2 linked regions of the Homo sapiens genome follow. The protein of the gene in region 1 interacts with the protein of each later gene in a biochemical or structural test. Each region holds a gene or a part of one and is shown on either strand. Other genes may lie near its edges. The genes, in order: INCENP and EVI5.

The links.
Region 2: the proteins of INCENP (region 1) and EVI5 form a complex in vitro, tested with the Homo sapiens proteins (one study listed by BioGRID).

What each region holds. Positions count from the first base shown.
Region 1 is NC_000011.10:62,127,011-62,139,414, forward strand, and holds part of INCENP (inner centromere protein), read left to right. Parts: intron 1-1,140; 5' UTR 1,141-1,151; coding exon 1,152-1,291; intron 1,292-1,759; coding exon 1,760-1,873; intron 1,874-2,771; coding exon 2,772-3,580; intron 3,581-10,821; coding exon 10,822-10,873; intron 10,874-11,702; coding exon 11,703-11,760; intron 11,761-11,877; coding exon 11,878-11,995; intron 11,996-12,404. UniProt on the Homo sapiens protein: Component of the chromosomal passenger complex (CPC), a complex that acts as a key regulator of mitosis.
Region 2 is NC_000001.11:92,684,681-92,700,700, reverse strand, and holds part of EVI5 (ecotropic viral integration site 5 protein homolog), read left to right. Parts: intron 1-2,715; coding exon 2,716-2,841; intron 2,842-5,247; coding exon 5,248-5,391; intron 5,392-6,312; coding exon 6,313-6,402; intron 6,403-6,801; coding exon 6,802-6,899; intron 6,900-16,020. UniProt on the Homo sapiens protein: Functions as a regulator of cell cycle progression by stabilizing the FBXO5 protein and promoting cyclin-A accumulation during interphase. May play a role in cytokinesis.

The sequences.
Region 1 (12,404 bases):
GTTTTTGTAATGGCTATCAAGTTTTTTGTTTTGTTTTTTTTTTTTTGAGACAGTCTCGCTGCGATGCCCAGGCTGGGGTGCAATGGTGTGATCTTGGCTCACTGCAACCTCCACTTCCTTAGTTCAAGTGATTCTCCAGGCTCAGCCTCCCAAGTAGCTGGGATTACAGGCGCACACCACCATGACCAGCTAATTGTATTTCTAGTAGAGTTGGGGTTTCACCACATTGGCCAGGCTGGTTTTGAACTCCTGACCTCATGTGATCTACCTGCCTCGGCCTCCCAAAGTGCTGGGATTACGGGTGTGAACCACTGCACCCGGCTGGTTATCAAGTTTTAAGGAGGATACCTGAGCTGCTAGTTTTATAAGAAAGTGAGAAAAAACTGTTTTTGTGTTTTCTCTTGCTCAATGCTTGTAGGCAAGTTTTCTTAAAAGCAAGATATTGCTTACTGTTCCCTTCTTGTTCTATTTATGCTCCATTTGGAGGGCATTTCAGCTCAAGGGAGAGGGTTGTGGGAGGCCCCTTGAGGGCATATCTCTGGATCACTACTTTCTCACTCATTCCTTTGGAACACAGAATCTCTTCTGCTCACTGGCCTCTTAAAGAGGCAGTTGGGTTTGATGTTCTTTGGCCTGATGTCTGGAGTCAGCTTGTATGTAGTGCAGGGTGGCTGTGTCTTAGCCCTCACTTAACCATGAGTAGTAAGATGAGGGCCTACTGGAGAGCGAGAGCAGGACTGTGTTTGGGCAGGGAGTGAGGGGCCCTGGGGTGGCCAGGAAGACAGATGGCAGTGCCCTGTCATCTTAAGCCCAGAAAAGGCCATTTATAAGGAGGACTGTCAATGTCAGAATTGGTTGGGAACTGTGGACTTATGGGGACAGTCATGCTGGCGGGGGGGTGGGGACAGGGAGGTATTTGAAGAGTGTGAGTAGAAGGGCTTCTCTTTGTAGAGATGAGGCTAGGGGATGAGTGTTTGGAATTCTGCAGCTCTGGGGAGTGGCTGTGAGCAGAGAGGGGCCCTGGTTCGGGCACTGGGTGTTTGTGGTGGTTGTGGGTCAGGTGGGTATTGCAGCTTGGAGAAAGCCCCAGACCCCTACCCTGGGCCCCTAACTTGTGCCTCTTGTCCCTGCCTTCACCAGACAGAGCCACCATGGGGACGACGGCCCCAGGGCCCATTCACCTGCTGGAGCTATGTGACCAGAAGCTCATGGAGTTTCTCTGCAACATGGATAATAAGGACTTGGTGTGGCTTGAGGAAATCCAAGAGGAGGCCGAGCGCATGTTCACCAGGTGAAGACGGGCACAGTGAGAGGCTGGGAACACCAGGGCCTGTCTGGGCTGCTTTGGTCTTGGGGACACAACAGCCCCTCGTCCCCGCCTACCTGGCAAAACAGACAGCCTGTCAGGGCTCCCTGCTGTATACTGTGTGTGCAGTGTGCTGGGGGCCTGACCTAGTGTCATGGGAAGAGGCAGCAGGAGAGATCCAGTCCCTTGCCTATTCGCCATCGTTGCTGGCTGGGCCTCTCAGGGTATGTGGCAATGGACGTGCGCCTGGGAGCTTGCTTCCCTGCCGTGTCTCCAGGAGGAAGCCCTGAGTGCCCGCAGGTGACTTGCACATGGCCTTGGAGAGCTCACTTGGTGCTGGACACCCCAGCTTGACCTGTCGCTGCCAGGAAATGGGCAGGGGCCAGGCTGGGTGGGAGAGGGGACCAGTGGTTCCCAGGCAGCCTCGAGTGACACCCTCCTTGTGCCAAACAGAGAATTCAGCAAAGAGCCAGAGCTGATGCCCAAAACACCTTCTCAGAAGAACCGACGGAAGAAGAGACGGATTTCTTATGTTCAGGATGAAAACAGAGATCCCATCAGGAGAAGGTAGGAGGGGTTGGGGGAGAGTGAGCTGAGCAGTGGGCTCTGCGGAGGCTTGGTGCCATCTGGGAGTTTGATTCTGAAGGTGTTGATTTGGAAGTAGCAGCCTGTAGGAGGGGTGGTGGGTACCACCGCGGGTACTGCGTGGGCCATGCTGAGAGGGGTTGGGATGCCACAGGGAACTATAGCTTGACCCAAGACCCTGGAGTCCAAATCTGTGGCTGTGTGTTGGGGGTGGGTGTGTTTGATCTGGGCCCTGGAGAATGGGAAAGATTTCCGTAGGTGGGATGAGAAAGAGAAGCCATCCTTCTGTTAGGTGAGTGTGACCAGGGGTGTAGACCACGTGCCTTGTCCCAGCCGTCATATTGTCATGCTTGTTTTAGTCCCCCTCAGGAATGATTGGGGCTGCAGAGTGCTAGGGAAAGAGGCTGGGTCTTGGGGTTAGGCTTGGGTGTGAACCCCAGCTCTGCCCCTTAGCAGAGCAGTACGGCTTTGAATTGAATTTCTGCCTCTCTGAGCCTCCGTTCCTCATCCCTAAAATGGGGATAGTGGTCTCTGCCTCTCAAGGGCGTGCTCTGGATTAAGGCAGAGCGTGTGTAAGGCTTTCAGCAGGGGCTCGGTGTGGTGTAACTTCAGTCAGCCGGAGGTTTGGATGAATATAATCTTCCTAGCCAGTTCTGTGCGGACTGTGGCATGATCCCCAATTTACAGTTAGGAAGACTGCGGCTCAGACAAGAATGGCCTGGGGCCTCATGGCTAGAGGTGGCAGAATCTGGCCTGGAACCCAGATCTTTTGCCTTCACCTTCTCTTATCATACTCTATCCAAGCTGGTGGCTCTTGGAGAGACTGGGTGCCACCCTGTCCTGCTGCCCGTCTCAGCCTCTGCCCTGCTGCCCCTGCCAGGTTATCCCGCAGAAAGTCTCGGAGCAGCCAGCTGAGCTCCCGACGCCTCCGCAGCAAGGACAGTGTAGAGAAGCTGGCTACAGTGGTCGGGGAGAACGGCTCCGTCCTGCGGCGTGTGACCCGTGCTGCGGCTGCAGCTGCCGCGGCTACCATGGCATTGGCTGCACCTTCTTCACCCACCCCTGAGTCTCCCACGATGCTGACTAAGAAGCCCGAGGATAACCACACCCAGTGCCAGCTGGTGCCTGTGGTGGAGATCGGCATCAGTGAGCGCCAGAATGCTGAGCAGCATGTCACCCAGCTCATGTCCACCGAGCCTCTGCCCCGCACTCTGTCCCCGACTCCAGCTTCAGCCACAGCTCCAACCTCCCAGGGCATCCCGACATCAGATGAGGAATCAACACCTAAGAAGTCGAAGGCCAGGATACTGGAGTCCATCACAGTGAGCTCCCTGATGGCTACACCCCAGGACCCCAAGGGTCAAGGGGTCGGGACGGGGCGGTCTGCGTCTAAGCTCAGGATTGCGCAGGTCTCCCCTGGCCCACGGGACTCGCCAGCCTTTCCAGATTCTCCATGGCGGGAGCGGGTGCTGGCTCCCATCCTGCCGGATAACTTCTCCACGCCCACGGGCTCTCGCACGGACTCTCAATCGGTGCGGCACAGCCCGATCGCCCCGTCTTCCCCGAGTCCCCAAGTCTTAGCCCAGAAGTACTCTCTGGTGGCCAAACAGGAAAGTGTTGTCCGCAGGGCGAGCAGAAGGCTTGCCAAGAAGACTGCCGAAGAGCCAGCTGCCTCTGGCCGCATCATCTGTGAGTCTGGGGGCTTGGCAGTGGCGGGTGGTCCTTGGTGCCAGGCTCAGATGGAGGCTTTCTGAGGGATCATCTAGCAAGGAGCTGTCCAGAGAGCTTTCTGCAGTGAGGTAGATGTTACACATCTGTGCTGTCCTGGGATGGTGGCCGCTAGCTGGCCTCATCTGGCGATTGTGTCCTCAAAATGTGGCTAGTGTGATTGAGGAACTGAATTTTAAATTGTATTGCATTCTACTTCTTTTAGATTTAAATAGTTACATGTAGCTAGTGGCTTCCACGTTGGATGGTGCAGGTCTGACCCAACCTACTTGCTTTACAAGTGAGGAAACTGAGCTTCGGGAAGGTCGGCCACTGTGTGGCTGTGGTTACTGGCCATGTTGAGGCTGGAGCCTGGGCCTCTTCCGCAGGGCCAGCTCATTCCTCCCAACCCTATGCTGCAGAGGCCACTTAAATTCACCGGGTTTGCGCGCCGCCTATTGGCGACACTGTGTTTGATCTGGAGGAGGGAATTATGGCAGCAGGCTCCTTCGGGGAGATCAGATGACTGGGCATCTGATGGGAGCCAGGAGGGGGAACCAAGCTGACTCTGGAGCTGGCCGGCCTGGGTCTGAGTGCCAACTCAGCCATTCACCCACCCTGCAGCCTGGGGCAGGTCCTGGAAACTTCACGGGCCTCCACTCCTTGCCTGTCAACTGGGGCTAATCGCGTCACTTCAAAGGGTCGTTGTGAGGTTTTCTTTGGTCACCCCACACAGGGAGTTTAGAAGGGTGCCTGGCATATAGGAAGGACTCGGTAATGTTAGCTGCTCTCTCAGATCTCAGCTTAGGGGGCCATTGCCCACTGGAGCAGGTGTCTGGAGGGGCAGGCTGGCTGCATGAGGAGGTGAATCTGAGCTGGGAGGGTTCTGAAGGATGGCTGCGCTTTTGCTGAGTGGAAAAAAAATGCGGGGATATGTGTTATTGGCAGAGGGAACAGCTTGTACGAAGACCCTGATGCCTAAAGCAACAAGTGATGGGTGTCTGGGGCTCATGCTCACACAAGAGCTTGAACTTGACCCCACTGAAGCAAAAGAAGTGGCTTGATGATGGGAAAGTGAGGGAAACAGGGAGACCAGATAGGAGGCTGCTGTAAGGATGCAGGCAGAGGACGGGCAAAGCAGCGGATTGGTGGCGAGGATAGGCCAGGATTTATCTTTTTTTTTTTTTGATACAGAGTCTCGCTCTGTTGCCCAGGCTGGAGTGCAATGGCACGATCTCGGCTCACTGCAACCTCTGCATGCATCTCAGGTTCAAGCAATTCTCCTGCCTCAGTCTCCCGAGTAGCAGGGATTACAAGCGCCCGCCATCACACCAGGCTAATTTTTGTGTTTTTGTTTTTTAGTAGAGATGGGGTTTCACCATGTTGGCCAGGCTGGTTTCGAACTCCTGACCTCAAGTGATTCACCCGCCTTAGCCTCCCAAAGTGCCGGGATTACAAGTGTGAGCTACTGCGCCCAGCCCAGGTTTTATCTCAACGCATGTTAAATAGTAGCTGGCATCTGCCTGGCACTTTAAGATTTATAAAATGAAAGGTTATTTCATTTGGTCCTTACAGCAGCATTGTTAGCTTGTGAGGAATTTTTCACTTTACAGAGGAGGAAACTGAGGCTTAAGGAGGCCATGGAGTCTGTAAATCGGGAAGCTGGGGCTTGAGCGCTGTGTGTTTCATTCTGTCCAGAAAGTCAGGTGCTTGCAGAAGAGGCTTTGTGCAAGGCCGCAGGGCAGGGCCTGTCAGGCAGGGGAGGGCACCTCACCTTGGCAGCTTTCTCTCTGCCTGAGTCACACTGCCTGGGGACGGGCCTGCTCCAGGGTTTGGGGTGACATACTCTGGGGCGTGTGCAGATGTGCAGTCTGCCACACTGTCTATTTCTGGATTCTCAGAAGGATCTAAATGGTTCTGATCTGTTTTGGAGATTTTCTCAGGCCTGGATCTGATCTTGGGAAGGGGCTTCAAGCGGGGGCAGGTGAGCCTGGGCCTGTAGAGGGAGGGCCAGGCAGGGTTGCAGAGAATCTCTGGAGACCTTTGGAGCAGACATCCAGATCTGCAGCTCTCATGCCCTTCCATCACTCTTCCCTCTCTGTCTACCCTTTCCCTGCCCATGAATGGGCTTCTGATTTGACTGGTGCATGTTACCTGGGTCTGTCTGACTCCCAGCCCAGCATCATCTCTCCTCTTGAGGGGGTGGAGGAGAGAGAGGAGGATACAGGATCTAGGATCTGGAGTCACACAGACCCTGGGTGACCTTGGGCACACCCCTTCTCTCAACCTCAGCTTTTCTGTGAAATGGTGATAACACTTGCTTTGAATGTGAATAGATAACTCATCTTAGTGCTTGAGTGTAGTGGATACTCAGTACATCTTATTTGAGAAAACTCACCAATGGCTGATGCTCAGTTTGGGTGCGACAAGGCCGACCCCTAGTGAGGAGCTGCAAGGGTGTCAGGGAGTGGGGCGGTGACAGGGGAGGAGGCTTCCTGGGGGTCTTCCTGATACCAGGCTCTGGGAGAGGCTCTCGGGCAGCTCCAAGGTGGGGTCTTGGTTTGGGTGTTCCCCACGAGCAGCCCTTGACACAAGGATTTGAGTTCAATTTGTTAATTTTTGGGAAATTAACAAATTTAATTTCCCAAAAATTAAATTCGGGATGGGAAGGAAACACCTGCACCAGAGGAATGGAAAAATGAGATAGGAAAAAAAGCCAGCAGTCAGCGTGGGTGGAGGGGGCTTCTGGAAGCCAGAGTGTGGCCCCGGGGCGTGGAACTGCTGTGTGTCAGCAGGAATCCCCTGCCTCCTGGCCTGGTGCGCACGTGCCTGCGGGGCCCATCGGGCAGCAGTTCTGAAGTGGATAGGAAGGGACAGGCCCACTGCCTCAGGACTCCACCTTGGGGCGTTCGAGCCACCTCTGCATTGGAGAACAGTCCTTCCATCCCTCTGCCAGTGCTTAGGCCACTTCCCTACCACCAGACCAGCTCTGAGGCCTGAATGTCGTGCAGATGGCACTTAGCATTCCAGAGAATGCTTGTGCTGGTGGGAGAGCCATGTAGTCACATGGGCGTCTTCATCAGGGAGCACGTGAGCTGGGATGACACAGCATGGGGAGATGAGGAGGATGTATCTTCTGGGTATAAACCCCTTAAATGGGGGTCATCACCACCCATGACTGTCAGCCCGGCGCTGCAGCTGCTCCCACCACCTCCCCAAACCTGGCTGCTATACCCAGGAAGGGTCCTGGCTTCCCTTCTCTGTGCCTGGCCTGCTGTCTTCCCTCTTTTCCTGAGACCCTGTGCACCCCAACCTCCCGCTGGCCACCTCCCAGCCTGAACTCTGACCAAGCCCCCATGGCTCAGGATGCGCCAGCTCAGCTACCTTCTCTCTGTTCCCCAAAAAAGCCTCTTTTTTTCCTGCCTCATGGCCTTGGCCCTCCTTCTCCCTAGACCAGTGGCACTGGGAACAGGCATGCTCCCAGCTAGGAAGAAGCCGGGGACATAAAGCTAGCAGCTGTGGTGAGGATACCAGGGTGAGTGCTGAGGGTGAGGGACCTGGGCTTCCTGTTTTTAATGATTAAGCCTCAGCCTCAAAAAGCTTTTGACAGCCTGGACAACATGGCCAGACCCTATCTCTACCAAAATGGAAAAAATTAGCCAGGTATGGTGGCATGTGCCTGTAGTCCCAGCTACTCAGGAGGCTGAGGTGGGAGGATTGCTTGAACCCAGGAGGTCGAGGCTGCACTGAGCTGAGATTGTGCCACTGCACTCCAGACAGAGTGAGACTCTGTTAAAAAAAAAAAAAAAAAAGCTTTGATTATGAGGTTATATCTATTGATCGTTACTGTATTAAAAATTAAAACTGAGGAGTTTAAAAGTATTTTAAATATTAATATTTTTATATGAATATTTAGTACTTTAAAGATTTAAAAATATTGTTTAATATTTTAACATTATAAAATGCAAGTACCAAGCCTATCACCTGTTTACATTAAGACTTTTTATGAAAAAATAACTTTTCCAAAACAAAAATGTACTGAAGACACTGGCATTATTCTACATTTTGCAAATCTCTTTATTGTATGACTTTAAATAAGCCACATTCTGCGTTTGATCTGTTGTTGCATTGTGTTGTTTGGGTTAAAGTAACTGAAGAACTGGACGGGCGAGGTGGCTCACACCTGTAATCCCAGCACATTGGGAGGCCGAGGTGGGCAGATCATGAGGTTAAGAGATTGAGACTGTCTTGGCCAACATGGTGAAACCCTGTCTCTACTGAAAATACAAAAAATTATCTGGGCGTGGTGGCACGTGCCTGTAGTCCCAGCTACTCAGGAAGCTGAGGCAGGAGGATTGCTTGAAACCGGGAGGTGGAGGTTACAGTGAGCTGAATTCACGCCACTTCACTCCAGCCTGGGTGATACAGTGAGACTCTGTCTCAAAAAAAAAAAGTAGCTAAAGAACATCTGGCCTCACATAGACGTGTAGTTGGGAAAGGGAGGAGTATCTTCATAGCTTTTTCAGATAATTATGCATATTCTTTGTTATCAGGACCAGCGCAAGAAGTGGTAGTTCTTAAAGGTTTGTTGTGGTGTGGAATCTGAAACCATGTTGCTGATTCCACACGGGTCTACCTTGCACTTTGTTTTGTTTTTTTTTGTTTTGTTTTGTTTTTGAGATGAAATCTCACTCTGTCGCCCAGGCTGGAGTGCAGTGGTGCGATCTCAGCTCACTGCAACCTCTGCCTCCCGGTTCAAGTGATTCTCTTGCCTCAGCCTCCCGAGTAGCTGGGATTACAGGTGCCCACCGACGCCCGGATAATTTTTGTCTTTTCAGTAGAGACGGGGTTTCACCATGTTGCCAGGCTGGTCTCAAACTCCTGACCTCAAATCATCCGTCTGCCTCGGCTTCCCAAAGTGCTGGGATTACAGGCGTGAGCCACCACAACTGGCCACACTTTGAATGGATCTTTTAGATGTGTCTGATTTCATAACCACATACATCGATCATTTCGAAAATATTGTTTCACCAAGTTATGCACGTCTTCCAAGTGTTGACACCCTTCATTATATAATATCCTAAAAAAGCACATTTGTTTTCTGACCTCATCAGAAAAGTCCTTAGATATTAGGATGCTGTGACCCTGCTGGTGGTGGATACGCGCTTTTCAAAATTCTACTCTTGGATTCGTTTTGGCTCAATTTTTTTTTTCTTTTTGAGATGGAGTCTTGCTCTGTTGCCCAGGCTGGAGTGCAGTGGCACAATCTCAGCTCACTGCAAGCTCCGCCTCCCGGGTTCACGCCATTCTCCTGCCTCAGCCTCCCGAGTAGCTGGGACTACAGGCGCCCACCACTACGCCCGGCTAATTTTTTGTATTTCTACTAGAGACGGGGTTTCACCGTGGTCTCGATCTCCTGACCTAGTGATCCGCCCGCCTCGGCCTCCCAAAGTGCTGGGATTACAGGCGTGAGCCACCGCACCCGGCCTTGGCCCAATTTTTAAATTATTGTCAGCACGTGGTGTTTTATTTTTGTGATGGATTCACTTCATTGACTTGTGAAAAAATGTCTTCCAGATACCCAAGACTGAATAACCATTGTCAGTCGTTCTTTTAATTAATAATAGTGGTTCAGGTGAAAAAGTGGCTAGTGCAGCTGGCAGCTTAGAGACGAGCGCTTTTCACAGAGAGTTGGGTTTGCAGCAACAGGCATTGTGCACACTTCCCACCTCAGCACACAGAAGAGTAGAATGGCATGTACTTGAGTTTAGATTTAGTAAAATTAGGACTTTTGCAGGCGCAGTGGCTCACGCCTGTAATCCCAGCACTTTGGGAGGCTGAGGCAGGTGGTTCACTTGAGGACGAGTTCAAGACCAGCCTGGCCAACATAGCGAAACCCTATCTCTACTAAAAATATAAAAAATTAGCTGGGTGTGATGGTACATGCCTGTAATTCCAGCTACTTGGGAGGCTGAGGCACCAGAATCCCTTGAACCCATGAGGTGGAGGTTGCAGTGAGCTGAGATTGCGCCACTGCATTCAGCCTGAGTGACAGAGTGAGAGTCTGTCTCAAAAAAAGAAAAAAAATTAGTACTTTTTACACCTTCATCAAGGACATTCCTCAGTGAAACTGGACATCTCTCCTTCCCGTGAGTGTGTGGTCCGAGGATAGTGTTTGATGCTCTGGCCTTGACTGGGGCTGAGGCTTCAGCAGCTAGTTCCTCATTGCTTTTGTGCCATCAGGGCAAATGTCAACATAGTGAAAGGGAAAGTAACATTTTAGTATCATAATTTTAGTATCATGATTAGTTACGACCTCGTGGATCCCCCATGGGTCTCAAGGACGTCCAAGGGTCAGAGGATGCAAGCTGAGAACCACTGGCCTGGACATCCTCCTCCTTTGTAAACTCCTCCAGGCCAGCTCAGGTCCCCCCATCATAGGCTTTTAAAATTCTCTGCTCTGGACCAGGCGCAGTGGCTCACGCCTGTAATCCCAGCACTTTGGGAGGCCGAGGCGGGTGGATCACTTGAGGTCAGGAGTTCGAGACCAGACTGGCCAACATGGTGAAACCCTGTCTCTATTAAAAATACAAAAATTAGCCGGAAGTCGCTTGAACCCAGGAGGCAGTGGTTGCAGTGAGCTGAGATTGTTCCACTACACACCAGCCTGGGCAACAGAGCAAGACTCCGTCTCAAAAAAAAGAAAAAAAATTTCTCTGCTCTGTTCCACCATTGCCCATGCTGGTGTTGTTGATAGGACTATTTGATGATTGTTATCTAGACCAGATGGTGGTTCTGTTTTGCTCACCATTGGGGTCCTGGGGCCTGGCCCAGGTCCCAGTACACTGTAGACACTTGATGAATATTTGTTGACAGAATAAGCTGCTTTGTGTTGGGCCCCATGCTGGGAGTTTGGGGCCTGGAGCTGCAGCAAACATTGTCCCTCTTCTCGAGATATTCCCAGCCCAGTGAAGGTGCCCAGCCGTGCTCTCAGATGGGCATGGGAAGACCATCTGGGAAGCAGCCGGGGACATGAAGCCAGCAGCTCCGATAAGGACACTAGTATGAGTGCTGAGGGGAGGGTCCTGGGCATGGTGGGGGCTCCACGGCTAGTGATGGGAGCAGTGGCCAGGCCCTTGCTGGAACCCGGTCCCCTGGACCCCTTAGAGTGGGACCTGTGTGGTCTCTGATGAGATCTTTTGTGCCTTTCTTTTCCCCCTCAGGTCACAGTTACCTGGAGAGGCTCCTGAATGTTGAGGTGCCCCAGAAAGTTGGGTGAGTTCAGTTCCAGGGCTTCGGAGGTAGGCAGGGCATACCAGGACAGGGAGCCAAGGTGAGCACCAGGGCTGGAAGCAATTCCTGGGCTGAGTCTTCCCCACTGAGCCTTGACCGCCCAGGAGCTGCCCCGTTTTCCCTGTCTGACCAGGCAGTGAGTGATGTGGGTGTTGGCCACCTGGTCTCCTTGCAGCACCCGTCAGCGTTGCTGGTTGCCTGGCTAGACCTGACCCTGGGGCGTGGGCTCCAGAGGTTGGGGGTGAGGCGGGGCTGCCAGGAAGAGCTACATTCAAACTGGCTGGGGTAGGATAGGAGTGCTCCAGGATTACACCCAGTGCTGCTTCGGGCCAGGACACAGACTCCTTTTCCTGGAGGCCGTGTCCTGCCATCACTAAAACCAGCCCCCTCCCTCCTTGCTGCAGAGCAGAGGGTTTGTTCTTGGGACGGGGAAACAGGGTGACAGGGCAGACCTGCTGGCCTTGCCAGCCCCATGGTGAATAGAGAACAGACCACAAAAGAGATGCAGCTCACCTGGGCCCAAGAGGTGGAGGCGGAGCTGAGGACAGGGCTCACATCCTGAGACAGCTCTGTGGTGGGGTGCCAGGGAGATGAAGCCACATTCTGAAGCTGACATCCCTCGTCTGTCCATGGAGCCATTGCCGGGAGCTGCCATCCTCCTATCCTACAGGGGGCTGTGGGTTCGTGGCCCTGGCCAGGGCACCTTGTGTTGACCTCTTGGGTCCCCATCCCTGGAATGGTAGAGGGACTCCCTAGGGGGAGGGCTTGGACTAGCTGGGCAGTCCCCTCAGAGTCCCTCTTCTGTTTTCAGTTCTGAGCAGAAGGAACCCCCCGAGGAGGCTGAGCCTGTGGCGGCAGCTGAGCCAGAGGTAAGACGGCTGCCTGGGGAAGGGAGGACTCACCTCTGGGGCTCCCGCTCTGCACTACGGCCATCCTGGGCCTTGGGTTCCAGGTCAAGACCCCTAAAGCCTTGGTTCTTTCCACAGGTCCCTGAGAACAATGGAAATAACTCGTGGCCCCACAATGACACGGAGATTGCCAACAGCACACCCAACCCGAAGCCTGCAGCCAGCAGCCCGGAAACACCCTCTGCAGGGCAGCAAGGTGAGGCTTCCTGACCTGCCGTGTGCAGTGCCCGGAGCCACAGCGGGCCTTGGCGGCCTCGGCCTGACCTTCTCTCTGGGGATAAGGAAGCCCCATTTTCTGGGCCAGTAGGCTAAAGAGAAATTAAACCTGGGGGTGCAGAGATCCCTTTTGAGTCTGTAGACTTCACCTCCCACCGTTGGGCTGGAGCTGTCACTGAGTGCAGCATGGGGGGCTGTGGCTGGTTGGGACAGGAAGCAGAGGAAGGGGCTGCATCGGGGTATGGATATGAAGAGGCCAGGTCAAGGCCTTGACCTTGACTCCAGGGGCCAGTGGGAAGAGCTGTGGGCTGGGGATTGAACACCCCACCTGGCCTCCTGCTTTGCCTCCCCCGCCAGCTCCTTTCTGACCTTTGTATGTCCATCCTTGT
Region 2 (16,020 bases), on another chromosome or scaffold:
TTTTCTCTGCTTGAGGTCTGAATCTCTCAACAGCTGACCTAGCTCTCTAGGAATCCTGTGGATCCTGTGAATCCTCTAGGAATCACAGTTTCCTTCAAGACAGGGCAAGCAGTGGTGGTAGAGATATTAACTTCAATAAGTATTATTACCACCATTGGAGTAATAAATAATATTTTGGTGATTGATCTACTTAGCTGTTGTCAGTGGCAGCAGTATATTAACACAAGAACAGTAGTCACTTATGGCCCAGGGCCATAAGGTAGAAAAGCTCCTCTTTTTGTTTCTAAAGTTTATGCCGACACCTTATGCTATATTCTCCCATAACTTCAGTTTAGAAATGTAACTCAGAGAGTCTGATAAAATTTGCAAAATTAGTACATACTTTATCAAAATGGTTAGAAGTATGTATGTTTTGTATATATCTCACTCCTATAATATTAGGTATATTGTCTGCATTAGACCTTTGCAAAAGACATGGATTCTTATCAGCTCAGAGTCACAGAGAAAGTTATGTAGCAGCACATTGCTCTAGGACTCAAGTGTCTTGATTTCTTTCTAATGGAAAGGAATGACTATAAAACAACTTGGTGTATGCCACTCCGTGTCACATTTTTTCATTTTGTCACCATGGTTTCAATTTTTTTGAGAAGGACCTAGTGATACTTTTTCTGTCTCCTTTTCCTCTTTTGTCAAATTACCTCAACTTATTTTTTAAAATGTTGCCATTAAAAAAAATTCTCCTCTAGTTCCCATATCAATGCTATTGCAAAGAGGAGAGGGAATGAAACTTGTTTTGATATGTTCAGAAGAGAAGAAATTGTTGTAAGACAAAAAGGGAAATTATAATTACATACTGCATAATGACATTTTGGTCAACGGTGGACTGCATGTGTGATGGTGCGCCCATAAGATTATAATACCCTATTTTTACTTTGCTTTTTCTATGTTTAGATACACAAACATGTGCCATCATGTTACAGTTGGCCTACAGTATTCAGTACAGTAACATACTATACAGGTTTGTAGCCTAGGAGCAATAGGCTATATAGCATATAGCCTAGGTGTATAGTAAGCTATATGGTATAGGTTTGTGTAGGTGCACTCTATGATGTTCGCACAATGATTAAATCGCCTGAGGACATATACCTCAGTAATCTCTGTCCCCTTCCAGTGCTGTGGGAGAGAAAAGAGAAAACAACTACCTTAGGAGAGAGCCAGGTTTCAGTGTTGAAATATTCTTAGGGGAGATACAGATTTCAGCTAAAGAAAGAGAGGAACATTTGGAAAAGAGATTGAGGATATAGGTAGACTATTCTGTTGATGGTAGGATATGGGTTCCAGAAAATGCTGTGGAAAAGATTTAGGAAAGATTGGAAATGGGGTCAGATTAGGAGAACAGTAAAATCATTTAGGATGAGAGTCCTGGGATTTGGGGCTTCTCGTAGTGACTGACATAATTCAGTGGGGCTGTGGGGCTTGATAGAATTAATAGAGATAGTCTCCTAAGTAGAATTGTGGCCATCTGTGTTGAGAGGAAGGAAGAAGTGCAGGTTTTGCCAAGAGTGACTCTTGGCCCCCTGTCCGTGGCTGTGTCAAGGCCAGGAAAAATGTCTTGTTATTAGCAGCAGTCTTCAGTAAGAAGAAGGCCTGGAGATCCTTTGGGATGTTCTCTTTTGAAACACACTGGTATAACGGGAATGAATGAGAATTAGCAAATTTTATTATTTTGAGAAAGATGGTTTAACAATTTGGATAGTTATTTGCCTAAGTATTCTGAATATCTTTGTAGCTCTTTACAGAGCTTTCACATTCATTATCTTATTTGATATGATTTCCTAGTGATTTACACATAAAATGTGAAATTGGTACCTTTAAACCCCAATTTCAGATAATGTGAAAACTTAATTTATATGTCCTTTTAATACTTGTACCATGTCATATGATTTTTTGCTCAGAATCCTCAAAAATCCCTCTCTCTCACTTAAGGTAAAAGTCGAAATCCTTACAGTGGCCTCTACAGTCCTCTGCATTTTGGTTCCCTGTTATTTCTCCTCCATGATGTAACCTTCACTCATAGTATTCTAATTTAGTAGTTCTCTATTTGCTGTTTCTTGAGCATGCCAAGTGTGATTCCATTTTAGGACCTTTGTACTCTTTGGTCTTCTGGAACTGTTCTTTCCTCAAATGCTCCCTTGCTTTCTTCAGGATTCTGCTTAACTGTTACCGTATCAGGGGACCTTTCCTGATCTATATCAATAGCCGTGTGTCTCCCCAGCATTCCCTACTTTATTTTATTTCTGTAGCATCCATCACCATCTGACATATATATTAGTTGATTTATTCCATGTCTTGTCTGTCTCCCTCCATTAGAAATTCAGGTTCCTTGAGAATAGAGATTGTGTTTATTTTGTTCACTGGTGTATACCCAGAGAGAGAAAAGTATCTGGCTGTAAATCAGTATTTTGGGTTGAATTAATGAATGAGGCAAGTTGAGGCAGTTGGTTTCAGAGGTTGTAAGATTTGTTTAACTTCTCATTCTTGGTGATAGAATGGGAGACTAGAACTTTCTGATTCTTACCTCATTGCTCTTAACATTGCAGCACACAGCCACTCAAACAATGTTTGTGGTTGGCTGTGTACTTAGTTTAAATATCATTGGTTTATTTGTGTATCAGAGAACATTAACCTATGTTGTTTTTTTTTCTTCCAATGTAGATGCCAGAAGAAGAAGCTTTCTGTGTATTTGTTAAATTAATGCAAGATTATAGACTTCGTGAACTTTTTAAACCAAGTATGGCAGAATTGGGCCTTTGTATGTACCAGTTTGAATGTATGATACAGGTAAAAGTGCAGTGTTGATAAAAAGGCATATTGCCTTTATATTTTTTATATCTTGTTCTGAGTGCCAACTAAGCAAATTTAATGTTAAAAGCATTAAAGCACTTGAAGAAGTAAGTGTTTTAATTACATGATTGTTTTTTGGTTGGTTAATGTACAATTTGACCCTTCAAATTAGGTAGATCACAGTCTAGGACTTGACTCCAGTTTTCATATTCAATCCTTAAGCATTTCTGCCAAATGTACTATACACCCCTTACCTAAGCACATGAATTTCCTTATTATATCCTATTATTGTTACGTAGTCTAAGCTCTCTTACAGGAGCTTTATGATATTACACTGACATCAGTCCATTTACTTGGAGACTGTCTCTTTGAGTCCTCTCCTCTGCCTTTTTACTTTTATTTTATTTTTATTTTTTGCTAGCCCGTAATTTTTTTTCCTGTAATGTTTTCTTATGTTGCTAGTTTAAGACTCAAGTTATCTAGTGACTGTATGAAGGTGGAGAGAATAGGAGCAGAATCAAAATCAAGGGAAAAATACCTTTGAAGTATTTTACCTTTCTGGATTTAATTTTTATATTTTATATATTTAAGTTTGCTATAATGTAAATATTTTCATTTATTTCAATTTCAATTTCAATTAAATGAGCAGAATTTAAGAAAATAGGTGAATGAATCAGCTGGCATGAGAGCCATTTTTATTAGTTTCCTCTCTCCTGGCAGCCTTATAAACTCCAGTTTTTCCCATCTGTGGTGGGAGCAAGGGGATATGTAAAATGTTCTTATATTTTATTTTTTATTTATTCATTTATTTATTTTTGAGATGGAGTCTCGCTCTGTGGCCCAGGCTGGAGTGCAGTGGCGTGGTGTCGGCTCACTGCAAGCTCCGCCTCCTGGGTTCATGCCATTCTCCTGCCTCAGTCTCCCAAGTAGCTGGGACTACAGGTGCCTGCCACCACGCCCAGCTAATTTTTTGTATTTTTTTAGTAGAGATGGGGTTTCACCATGTTAGCCAGGATGGTCTCGATCTCCTGACCTCATGAACCGCCCGCCTTGGCCTTCCAAAGTGCTGGGATCACAGGCGTGAGCCACCGCTGTGCCTGGCTAATTTTTTAATTGACATACAATAGTTGTACATTATGGGGTACATATTTTTTGTTTTTATATATTTTAAAGAAAAAGCCAGAATAGGTTTTGAGATGATTTTTTTTTTTTTCCTGAGACAGAGTCTATCTAGCTCTGTTGTCCAGGCTGAAGTACAATGACACAATCACAGTTCACTGCCGCCTTGACCTCCTGGGTTCAAGCCATCCTCCTCCCTCAGCCTCCTGGATAGCTGAAACTACAGGTGTATACCACTGCACCTGAATAGTTTTTTATCTATTTTGATTTTTTATTTTTTAATTTTTGTAGAGACAGGGTTTCACTCTGTTGTCCAGGTTGGTGTTGAACTCCTGAGCTCAAGTGATCTTCCTATCTCAGCCTCCCAAAGTGCTGGGATTACAGGCATGAGCCACTGTGCCTGGACTTGAGATGATTCTTAATTAATTCTTTTCTGAAATAGTAAGCTTGTTTTTAGCAGCCTTAAACTCTCTTAATGTTATATTTTCAATTAATGTGTCATTTATGGCTGGACGCAGTGGCCCATGTTTGTAATCCCAGCACTTTAGGAGGCTGAGGTGGACAGGTCACTTGAGCCCAGGAGTTTGAGACCAGCCTGGGCAACATGGCAAAACCTTGCCTCTACTAAAAATAAAAAAAATTGGCTGGGCATGGTGGTGTGCACCTGTAGTACCAGCTGCCTGGGAGGCTGAGATGGGAGGATTGCTTGAGCTTGGGAGGCAGAGGTTGCAGTGAGCCAAGATCACACCACTGTACCCTAGCCTGGGTGACAGAGTGAGACCCCATCTCAAAAAAAAAAAAAAGTCTCATTTATGTTTTGAATTACTAGAGTTGCTGAAACATCTGTATTTTGAATATTTTTCCTATTCTTTAGGAAGGTAAGAATGGGTGATCAGTGGTAGATAGTGCCTGAAAGTATTTTAACATACCATTTATTTTCTTTTTAAACGTCTTTTTAAAATATTATAGTTGATAGAAGAGTATAGAAAATGTCAGTCACTCTTGTATCCACCAACAGGATTAAACAAATATAAAACTTTTATTCAGTTTCTTTTTATTAATAAATTAAATGTTATACTCAAAATTCCAACTTCACATTCTTTCCCCCTTCTTTCTTTCCTAGATACTAGCCACTGTCCCAGATGTTTCAATGTCTATGTCTTACCTTTTCCATATGATGCTTGATCTAATCTGTGTTTGGTATAGGCTAATCTAGTATAAATATAATCTAATTTAAAATACTCAGTTTTACTGTGTTATAACTAATTATTTTCTTCTCTTTAGGAGCATCTTCCAGAGCTCTTTGTACATTTTCAATCTCAGAGTTTTCATACCTCAATGTATGCATCATCCTGGTTTCTGACTATCTTTCTTACAACTTTTCCACTACCAATTGCAACAAGGATATTTGATATCTTTATGTCTGAGGTAAGCTAATGGGCAGACAAAGAGCAGGAGCTGAGCAAAGGGGTCACTGAGTTAGTGAGAGCAGGGCAATGAGGAGAGCAATGAAGGAAAGCCATGTGTCCCATGCAAAACTGCTTACATGGATAATCTCATTTAAACCTTATAATAACCCTATCAGGTAGATACTGTTTTTATTGCATTTGTTAGATGATAGATGAGGAAGTTGAGACTTAGAGAAAGGTTAAGTAGCTTGTCTATGGACACACAATACATAAGTGGTGTTGTAACCAGGATTCAAACATAGGCAGTTTGGAGCCTACACTGTTAATCATACCTCTTTATCACCTCCTAACTCATACAGTGAAAGTTAGTGAGAGGTAAAATTTGTCTTACAGTTAATATTGTTGAAATGCATCTGTCATCCAAAGAGTAAGAAGTAATAAGCATGTTTCTTCTATGAACACATTGCAGGTTGTTGTCCTTTTGTCAGTAGCACATAGAGGTAATCCTTTGTTTTCTAGTCTGTGAACTCAATGTTGTTATTAATTACATCTTGGGAAAATCAATTTGTATTACCTATCTAAATTAGTTCAGATCACAGTTGGTCAGCTGTGATTCATGTACCAATCAGATGGACAGATTTTTGTGCGAAATCCATTCTTCCACACCTGTTTTTTATAAAGTTTTCCTAGAACACAACCCTGCCCATTTATTTATATGTCGTGTATGTCTGCTTTAGGGTTGTAGTGGCAGAACTGAGTAATTTTGACAGACAATATAGCCCACCAAACCTAAAATACTTGCTTTCTGACTCTTGACAGAAAATGTTTGCCAGCCCCTAGTTTAGATCCCTAAATGTTTACCTTAGTATTATTTCAAATGACTCGTTTTTGTTGATGGAAGAGTAACATAAATTTGGATTTATTTAATTTGTTTCCTCAGGGTTTAGAAATAGTGTTTCGTGTAGGATTAGCACTTCTTCAGATGAATCAGGCAGAACTGATGCAACTTGACATGGAAGGGATGTTACAGGTAAGTTCATAATTTATTTTCTTTTTTTTTTTTTGAGACAGAGTTTAGTTCTGTTGCCCAGGCTGGAGTGCAGTGGCGTGATCTTGGCTCACTGCAACCTCTGCCTCCCAGGTTCAAGTGATCCTCCTACCGCTTCAGCCTTCTGTGTAGCTGGAATTACAAGCATGCACCACTACACCTGGCTAAGTTTTGTATTTTTAGTAGAAACAGGGTTTCATCATGTTGGCCAGGCTGGTCTTGAACTCCTGACCTGAAGTGATCCGCCTGCCTTGGCCTCCCAAAATGCTGAGATTACAAGCATGAGCCACCACGCCCAGCCCATAATTTCTTGAATGTCTTTGGATTTCACTATTAACAGCACTAAGTCATTCTTATGTTTTTTTTTTAATTGTATCTTAGCACTTTCAAAAGGTCATTCCACATCAGTTTGATGGTGTCCCAGACAAGCTAATCCAAGCAGCTTACCAAGTCAAATACAATTCAAAAAAAATGAAAAAGTAAGTATTTTATATTTTTGTTGGAAATTCAGTGGAAGTTGCAAAACATTCTAGTGATACAGTTTTCCTCCTTAGGTTATAGAACTATATTATTTTCTTCGGTGGTATTGGTTTCAATATAGCATAAAGCTAATGTTGGAATATACTGCTTTTAACAGTGGTGCATGGGACTAGCATGTACTACCTTTAAAACTTTCCTCCTTTTCCACGTTGACTAGAATTAGGAGCCTGGAATGGATATACATATATGAGGATGCTGTTATTTTTAAAACCACTTTTCTGGTGTGGTCCCATTCATTGACATTCTTTTCCTCTTAGTTTGACCCCACAGTGTCACTTAAGTTCAAAATTAGCATAACCAGCAAGATAGACATGAGGTATGGATTGAGAACTTAAAATTTTATTTATTTATTTTAGAGACAGGCTTTTGCTCTGTCACCCAGGCTGGAGTACAGTGGTGTGATTATGGCTGCTCACTGTAGCCTTGAAATCCTAGGCTCAAGTGATCCTCCCACATCAGCTTCCTGAGTACAGGAAGTACCCTGTCTCTACTAAAGCACAGGTGTACTACAGGCGCACACCACCATGCCTGGCTAATTTTAAAATTTGTTTTGTAGAGACAGAGTGTCACTATGTTGCCCAGGCTGGTCTCGAACCCCTGGGCTCAAGTGATCCTCCCACCTCAGCCTCCTAAAATGTTGGGATTACAGGTGTGAGCCGCTGCACCTGGTCAAATCTTATTTTTTGTACTACTTTCTAATGAAGCTTTTTTTGGCATTCATGTCCTAAAAGTTCAAAATAAAGTCTCTGCTCATTAGTTTTATTTTTGAAACAGATTAAGTGTATTAATTAAAATAATAGCTGTGATTTCTCTAGCTTCCAGTACTTAATTCTTAGCCTGCGGTCATAGTTAGCATTTCTGATACTGTACTTTCTATGGTATAAAATGCTTTAAAATGATAACAGTACTGTATGCTAGCAGTTAGCAGTTTTTCTGCTGCAATATGAAATTACATTAACATGTACAACATACTACTCCCATGGATATTCCTACTCCACAAAGTATATTTAAATATGAGTGAGAATTAATGTTATTAAAATTAGTTAGCTTTTCCATGCACAATGATGTGTACCTGTAGTCCCAGCTACTCCGGAGGCTGAGGCAGGAGGATTGCTTGAGCTCAGGAGTTCACAATCAGCCTAGGTAACATAGTGATACCTTATCTCTTTTAAAAAAATTAAAAAGTTAGCTCTAATTGACAAAAGCAAGCCAAGCCGATTTTTGAGCTTCAGCTTTTATTAAGTTACTTGTGATGTTTTAAATAACCACCATCATGTTGATACGTTTTAAATAACTACCATGTGTGGAGACATCATATAGACAAAAAGCCGCTGTGCCTTGTAACTGATAAAAACAAATTATCTCAATTTTTGTCACTTGGTAAAACCACATTGAACTCACACTAGCCAGGCAGAGAATTTATTTGACTTTAAAAGTCTGATAGAGAATGAGGTTCCTTAACCTTCTTGGTAACTAATTCTCCTTGCATAGATCTTGTCATATGTACAATCCATTTCTGAAATTTCAATTAATCCTGTTTACTTATCAGATTTCTGGCCCTCTATTTCTTTCACTTCCTTATTCGTGCTCTCCCCATTCTGCTTTATCAAGATCTCTAGATTGAGGTTTAAAAGCCTTCTTCTGATATGAACAACTGTGCTTCCTCTGCCCTTTTGTTTCCTGTATTCATGTATCCAATTGTTATTGCATAGTTACTGAGATTGCTGACAGTAAATTATGTTTCCAGTGGCCTTCCATGTATATTTATATTGACTTTGATTAATTATCTCATTCCTCACAGTGGTTACTTCAAACCTTACCATTCTTCCCAAACTCCCATCCCCTTTTTGCTATATGTAACTCTCACCAGATTACCTTATTCCTAATTCAGCAGTCATTTCCAAACTTCCTAAACTTGCTGTCTTCCAGCTTGTAGACTTAGCTATGTTCTTTTTCTTCTCTTTTTAGAATACAGTATTTTTTTTTCCTTTATAATGCTAATTCAGAATACGTGATGTTACTCATTTCCATCTCTTCCAGGTCTTTGCTCCATTAATTATTCCTTCTCTATCTTCAACCTCTCTCTCTGTTGTTTCATTTTCTTCAATCTAAGAAGATAATTTTGAGTTCTGACTTAGAAGCAACAAAACAAAACCTTCCTCAACATAGCATTTCATTTTCCTTTTATGAAGCTTAGCTGTGAAGGAAAGAATAGATTTTACTCATTAGCTACAGATCACATTCTATTTGCTTTTTTTCACTTGGGAAAATTTTCAGACATAACAAAAATAGAATAATAAATATCCATTGCTTATTGTCTGTATTTAACAACTGTTAATATTTTGTCATATTTATTTTTTTCAAAGTATTTCAAAGTAAATATTGTTAATATTTTGTCATATTTATTTTTTTCAAAGTAAAGCTCAGAAATTGTGACACTTCACTCTTTAATACATCAGTATTCATGTCCATAAAGTAATTTGCCTCATTTACCACATTGCTTCCACCACTTAACAGTAGTTCCATAATACTGCCTAATACTCAGTCTATGTTCACATTTCCTCAGTTGTGCCAAAAATGTCTTTGCCATTGATTTCATTGTATTCAGTTGTTCACTTACATTTTTAAAAATTTAGATCAGCACCACCTATTCCAATCTTCTTTTTTAATATATTGGCTTGTTGAAGAGACCAAGTCAGTTATACCGAGAATATCCAACCTGAAGGATTCATCTGATTATTTCCTTGTTATCTCATTTAACTTCTGTATCTCTTGTGTTTTCTATAAACTGGGAGCTAATGTGAAGACTTAATCTAATTAAGTGCAAACATTTCTGACAAGAATACTTAATAGGTGATACCATGTACTTTATTCATCTTAAAAGATGCATAATGTCTGTCTCACTGTTATTAGAGATGCCATGATTGGTGACTAGGTTAAGGTAATGACAGATTTCTTTATTATGAGGTTATGTTTTCCCTCTTGGCACCCAGTAAGTACTTTGTAAGTTGATACTTTGGCATTGTAAGAATATCCAGTTCATTATGACCTTCCACCTCTTGGCTCAGTCTGCTCAAAAGTTATTATTGAGGGCCAGGCACAGTGGCTCACACCTATAATCCCAGTACTTTGGGAGGCCGAGGTAGGCAGATCACTTGAGGCCAGGAATTCAAGACCAGCCTGGGCAACGTGGTGAAATCCTGACTGTATAGAAAAAAAAAAGACCAAAAATTAGCCAGGTATGGTGGTGTACACCTTTAGTTCCAGCTACTCAAGATACTAAGTTGGGAGAATCACTTGAGAAGTCTAGGATGCAGTGAACTGTGATTGCGTCACTGTACTTCAGCCTTGGCAATAGAGTGAGACCCTGTCTCCAAAAAAAAAAAAAAAGTATCATTGGGGATACTTTTCATGTTAAATTATTTCATTTAGGATAACAAAAGCATGATTTTAAAAATGTTATTCTTCTTACATTTATCAGTCAGCTTTCTTCATAACCTTTTCTTCTTTAACTGCAGCTAACTTCATTCTACTGGAAACACATATAAACACTTCATTATTTCAGCCAGGCGTGGTGGCTCACACCCACAATACCAGCACTTTGGGAGGCCCAGGCAAGAGGATTGCTTGAGCCTGGGAGTTTGAGACCAGCCTGGGCAACATAGCGAGACCCCATCTCTGCAATAAATAAAATAAGCTAACCAGGTGCCTGTAGTCCTGGCTTTTCCATAGGCTGAGGTGGGAAGATTGCTTGAGTCTGGAGTTGGAGGCTGCAGTGAGCTGTGATCACAGCACTGCACTCCAGCCTGGGTGACAGAGTGAGACCCTCTCTCTTAAACAAAACAAAACAACTTTATTATTCCCTTTAATTACCAATTTCCAGAGAAAAGAGTTAGTGGGAATGGTGTTCTTTTAAATTAGTCTATTCTTTTGCAGGTGGCATTATTAACGAATTACAGCCTATATTCAGAATGTTTTAAGGTTGCAAAGTAAGCTGTGTTCAACATCACAAAATTTTGCCAAAGTGACACTAATCTATAGTCTAACCCGGCAGTGTAAGAGTTCTTATTGTGGCCACGTGCAGTGGTTTAACATCTGTAGTCCTTTCACTTCAGGAGGCTGAGGCAGGCAGATTGTTTGAGCCTAGGAGTTTGAGACCAGCCCAGGCAACATGGTGAAACTTTGTCTCTACAAAAAAATAGAAAAATTAGCTGGATGTGGTGGCGCCAGCACACCTGTGGTCCCAGCTACTCAAGAAGCCAAGGTGGGAGGATCACTTGAGCCTGGGCGGTCCTGGCTGCAGTGATCCATGATTGTGCCACTACACTCCAGCCTGAGTGACAGAGTGAGACCCTGTCTAAAAAAAAAGTCTCATTGTTCTACTTTGTCATCAGTGCTTGGTTATTCTTAATTTTTGCCAATCTACTTAATTTTTACCAGTAGCAGGGGGCATTATTAAGGACTTACAGGTTTATATTCAGAATGTTTTAAGGTTGCAAAGTAAGCTGTGTTCAGCATCACAGAATTTTGCCAAAGTGACACTAATTTGTAGTCTAACCCAGCAGTGTATGTGTTCTCATTGTGGCCAGTATAAAATGTCTCATTTTCCACTTAATTTACATTTCCTTGATTGTTAATAAGACTAAGCATCTTTTCATATGTTTATTGGCCTCATGTTTTTCTTCTATTTTTTTCCTCCCTTTTTTACTGCAGTGTCTACTTCATACTGCTTTGACTTGTTAGTGGTTACTAGTTGTTTATGATCTGGGTTGTAATCTTTTGTCAGCATTAAAAGATAAGTCTTGTCCATTTCTACTAAGTATCAGTTTTGGAATATATAATAAACTCAACAATTGGACCTACCTCTCAAAAATGCTCAAGCTTCCTGTTGGTTGGAGGGTAGCAGCACAGAAAAGTAAATGGCTTGTTAGATGCAAATATGTAACAGATTATTAAAATTATATGTTAGAGATACCTAACCCGTATGTCTTCAGACTGGCATACACAGACTGCTGGGTGTCAGGAAAATGTTCAGAGCTTGGTTAAGTAGACTTTCAATTTCTATCTATAGTCTTTCCTACAATTTATCTTTCTGATAACATTTCTGTAGTAGAGGTGCCTCGGTTCTTCTTCGCACCTTCCTTTTTACAGCATGCCTTCTCCCACTTTATTAAAGGAAGGAAGGAAAACCTGTCACCCAACCTAGATCTTACTATGGTACCTTACTTTAGTTTATAAAAAATCTCTGTGGCTCCAAACAAAATGAACAATTTCAGAATGACTTGCTCCTGAGGGAGTATCCCCTGAGAGAGCATCCCCTGAGAGAGCAAAGCAAGAAAAATGGAAGTTTTCTTTATTATTATTATTATACTTTAAGTTCTAGGGTACATGTGCACAACGTACAGGTTTTGTTCAGCTCCCACCTATGAGTGAGAGCATGCGGTGTTTGGTTTTCTGTCCTTGTGATAGTTTGTGTAGAATCATGGTTTCCAGCTTCATCCATGTCCCTGCAAAGGACATGAACCCATCCTTTTTTATGGATGCATAGTATTCCATGGTGTATATGCGCCACATTTTCTTAATCCAGTCTATCATTGATGGACATTTGGGTTGGTTCCAAGTCTTTGCTATTGTAAATAGTGCCGCAATAAATATACATGTGCATGTGTCTTTATAATAGCATAATTTATAATCCTTTGGGTATATACCCAGTAATGGGATTGCTGGATCAAATGGTATTTCTAGTTCTAGATCCTTGAGGAATTGCCACACTGCCTTCCACAATGGTTGAACTAATTTACACTCCCACCAACAGTGTAAGCGTTCCTATTTCTTCACATCCTCTCCAGCATCTGTTGTTTCCTGACTTTTTAATGATCACCATCTAACTGGCATGAGATGGTATCTCATTGTGGTTTTGATTTGCATTCTGTGATGACCAGTGGTGATGAGCATTTTATCACATGTCTGTTGGCTGCATAAATGTCTTCTTTTGAGAAGTATTTGTTCATATCCTTGGCCCACTTTTTGATGGAGTTGTCTTTTTCTTGTAAATTTGTTTAAGTTCTTTGTAGATGCTGGATATTAGCCCTTTGTCAGATGGGTAGATTGCAAAGATTTTCTCCCATTCTTTAGGTTGCCTGTTCACTCTGGTGATAGTTTCTTCTGCTGTGCAGAAGCTCTTTAGTTTAATTAGATCCCATTTGTCAATTTTGGCTTTTGTTGCCATTGCTTTTGGTGTTTTAGTCATGAAGTCTTTGCCCATGCCTATGTCCTGAATGGTACTGCCTAGGTTTTCTTCTAGGGTTTTTATGGTTTTAGGTCTAACATTTAAGTCTTTAATCCATCTTGAATTAATTTTTGTATAAGGTGTGAGGAAGGGATCCAGTTTCAGCTTTCTACATATAGCTAGCCAGTTTTCCCAGCATCATTTATTAAATAGGGAATCTTTTTCCCATTTTTTGTTTTTGTCAGGTTTGTCAAAGAGCAGATGGTTGTAGATGTGTGGTGTTATTTCTGAGGCCTCTGTTCTGTTCCATTGGTCTATATATCTGTTTTGGTACCAGTACCATGCTGTTTTGGTTACTGTAGCCTTGTAGTATAGTTTGAAGTCAGGTAGCGTGATGCCTCCAGCTTTGTTCTTTTTGCTTAGGATTGTTTCGGCAATGTGGGCTCTTTTTTGGTTCCATATGAACTTTAAAGTAGTTTTTTCTAATTCTGTGAAGAAAACCAGTGGTAGCTTGATGGGGATGGCATTTAATCTATAAATTACCTTGGGCAGTATGGCCATTTTCATGATATTGATTCTTCCAATCCATGAGCATGGAATGTTCTTCCGTTTGTTTGTGTCCTCTTATTTCATTGAGCAGTGATTTGTAGTTCTCCTTGAAGAGGTCCTTCACATCCCTTGTAAGTTGTATTCCCAGGTATTTTATTCTCTTTGTAGTAATTGTGAATGGGAGTTCACTCATGATTTGGCTGTTTGTCTATTATTGGTGTATAGAAATACTTGTGATTTTTGCACATTGATTTTGTATCCTGAGACTTTGCTGAAGTTGTTTATCAGCTTAAGGAGATTTTGCACTGAGATGATGGGGTTTTCTAAATATCCAACCATGTCATCTGCAAACAGGGACAATTTGACTTCCTCTTTTCCTAACTGAATACCCTGTATTTCTTTCTCTTGCCTGATTGCCCTGGCCAGAACTTCCAACACTATGTTGAATAGGAGTGGTGAGAGAGGGCATCCTTGCCTTGTGCAGGTTTTCAAAGGGAATGCTTCCAGCTTTTGCCCATTCAGTATGATATTGGCTATGGGTTTGTCATAAATAGCTCATTATTTTGAGATACGTTCCATCAATACCTAGTTTATTGAGAGTTTTTAGCATGAAGGCTGTTGACTTTTGTCAAAGGCCTTTTCTGCATCTATTGAGATAATCATGTGGTTTTTGTCGTTGGTTCTGTTTACGTGGTGGATTATGTTTATTGATTTTCGTATGTTGAAGCAGCCTTGCATCCCAGGGATGAAGCCAACTTGATCATGGTGGATAAGCTTTTTGATGTGCTGCTGTATTCGGTTTGCCAATATTTTATTGAGGATTTTCACATCAGTGTTCATCGGGGTATTGGCCTAAAATTCTCTTTTTTTGTTGTGTCTCTACCAGGCTTTGGTATCAGGATGATGCTAGCCTCATAAAATGAGCTAAGGTGGATTCCCTCTTTTTCTGTTGATTGAAATGGTTTCGGAAGGAATGGTGCAAGCTCCTTTTTGTACCTCTGGAAGAATTTGACTGTGAATCCATCAGGTCCTGGACTTTTTTTGGTTGGTAGGCTGTTGATTATTGCCTCAATTTCAGAACCTGTTAATTGGTCTATTCAGGGATTCTACTTCTTCCTGGTTTAGTCTTGGGAGGGTGTATGTTTCCAGGATTTTATCCATTTCTTCTAGATTTTCTAGTTTATTTGCACAGAGGTATTTATAGTATTCTCTGATGGTTGTTTATTTCTGTGGGATCGGTGGTGATATCCCCTTTATCATTTTTTATTGCATCTATTTGATTCTTCCCTCTTTCCTTCTTTATTAGTGTTGCTAGTGGTCTATTTTGTTAATCTCTTCAAAACACCAGCTCCTGAATTCATTGATTTTTTGAAGGGATTTTTGTGTCTCTATTTCCTTCAGTTCTGCTCTGATCTTAGTTATTTCTTGCCTTCTGCTAGCTTTTGAATGTGTTTGCTCTTGCTTCTCTAGTTCTTTTAATTGTGATGTTAGTGTGTCAATTTTAGATCTTTTCTGCTTTCTCTTGTGGGCATTTAGTGCTATAAATTTCCCTCTACACACTGCTTTAAATGTGTCCCAGAGATTCTGGTACATTGTGTTTGTTCTCACTGGTTTCAAAGAACATCTTTATTTCTGCCTTCATTTTGTTATGTACCCAGTAGTCACTCAGGAGCAGGTTGTTCAGTTTCCATATAGTTGTGCGTTTTGAGTGAGTTTCTGAATCCTGAGTTCTAATTTAATTGCACTGTTGTCTGAGAGACCGTTTGTTGTGATTTCTGTTCTTTTACATTTGCTGAGGAGTGCTTTACTTCCAACTATGTGGTCAATTTTGGAATAAGTGCCATGTGGTGCTGAGAAGAATGTATATTCTGTTGATTTGGGGTGGATAGTTCTGTAGATATCTAGTAGGTCTGCTTGGTCCAGAGCTGAGTTCAAGTCCTGGATATCCTTGTTAACCTTCTGTCTTGTTGATCTGTCTAGTATTGACAGTGGGGTGTTAAAGTCTCCCATTATTATTGTGTAGGAGTCTAAGTCTCTTTGTAGGTCTCTCAGGACTTGCTTTATGAATCTGGGTGCTCTTGTATTGGGTGCATGTATATTTAGGATAGTTAGCTCTTCTTGTTGAATTGATCCCTTTACCATTATGTAGTGACCTTCTTTGTCTGTTTTTATCTTTGTTGGTTTAAAGTTTGTTTTATCAGAGACTAGGATTGCAACCCATGCTTTTTTTTTTGCTTTCCAATTGCTTGGTAGATCTTCCTCCATCCCTTTACTTTGAGCCT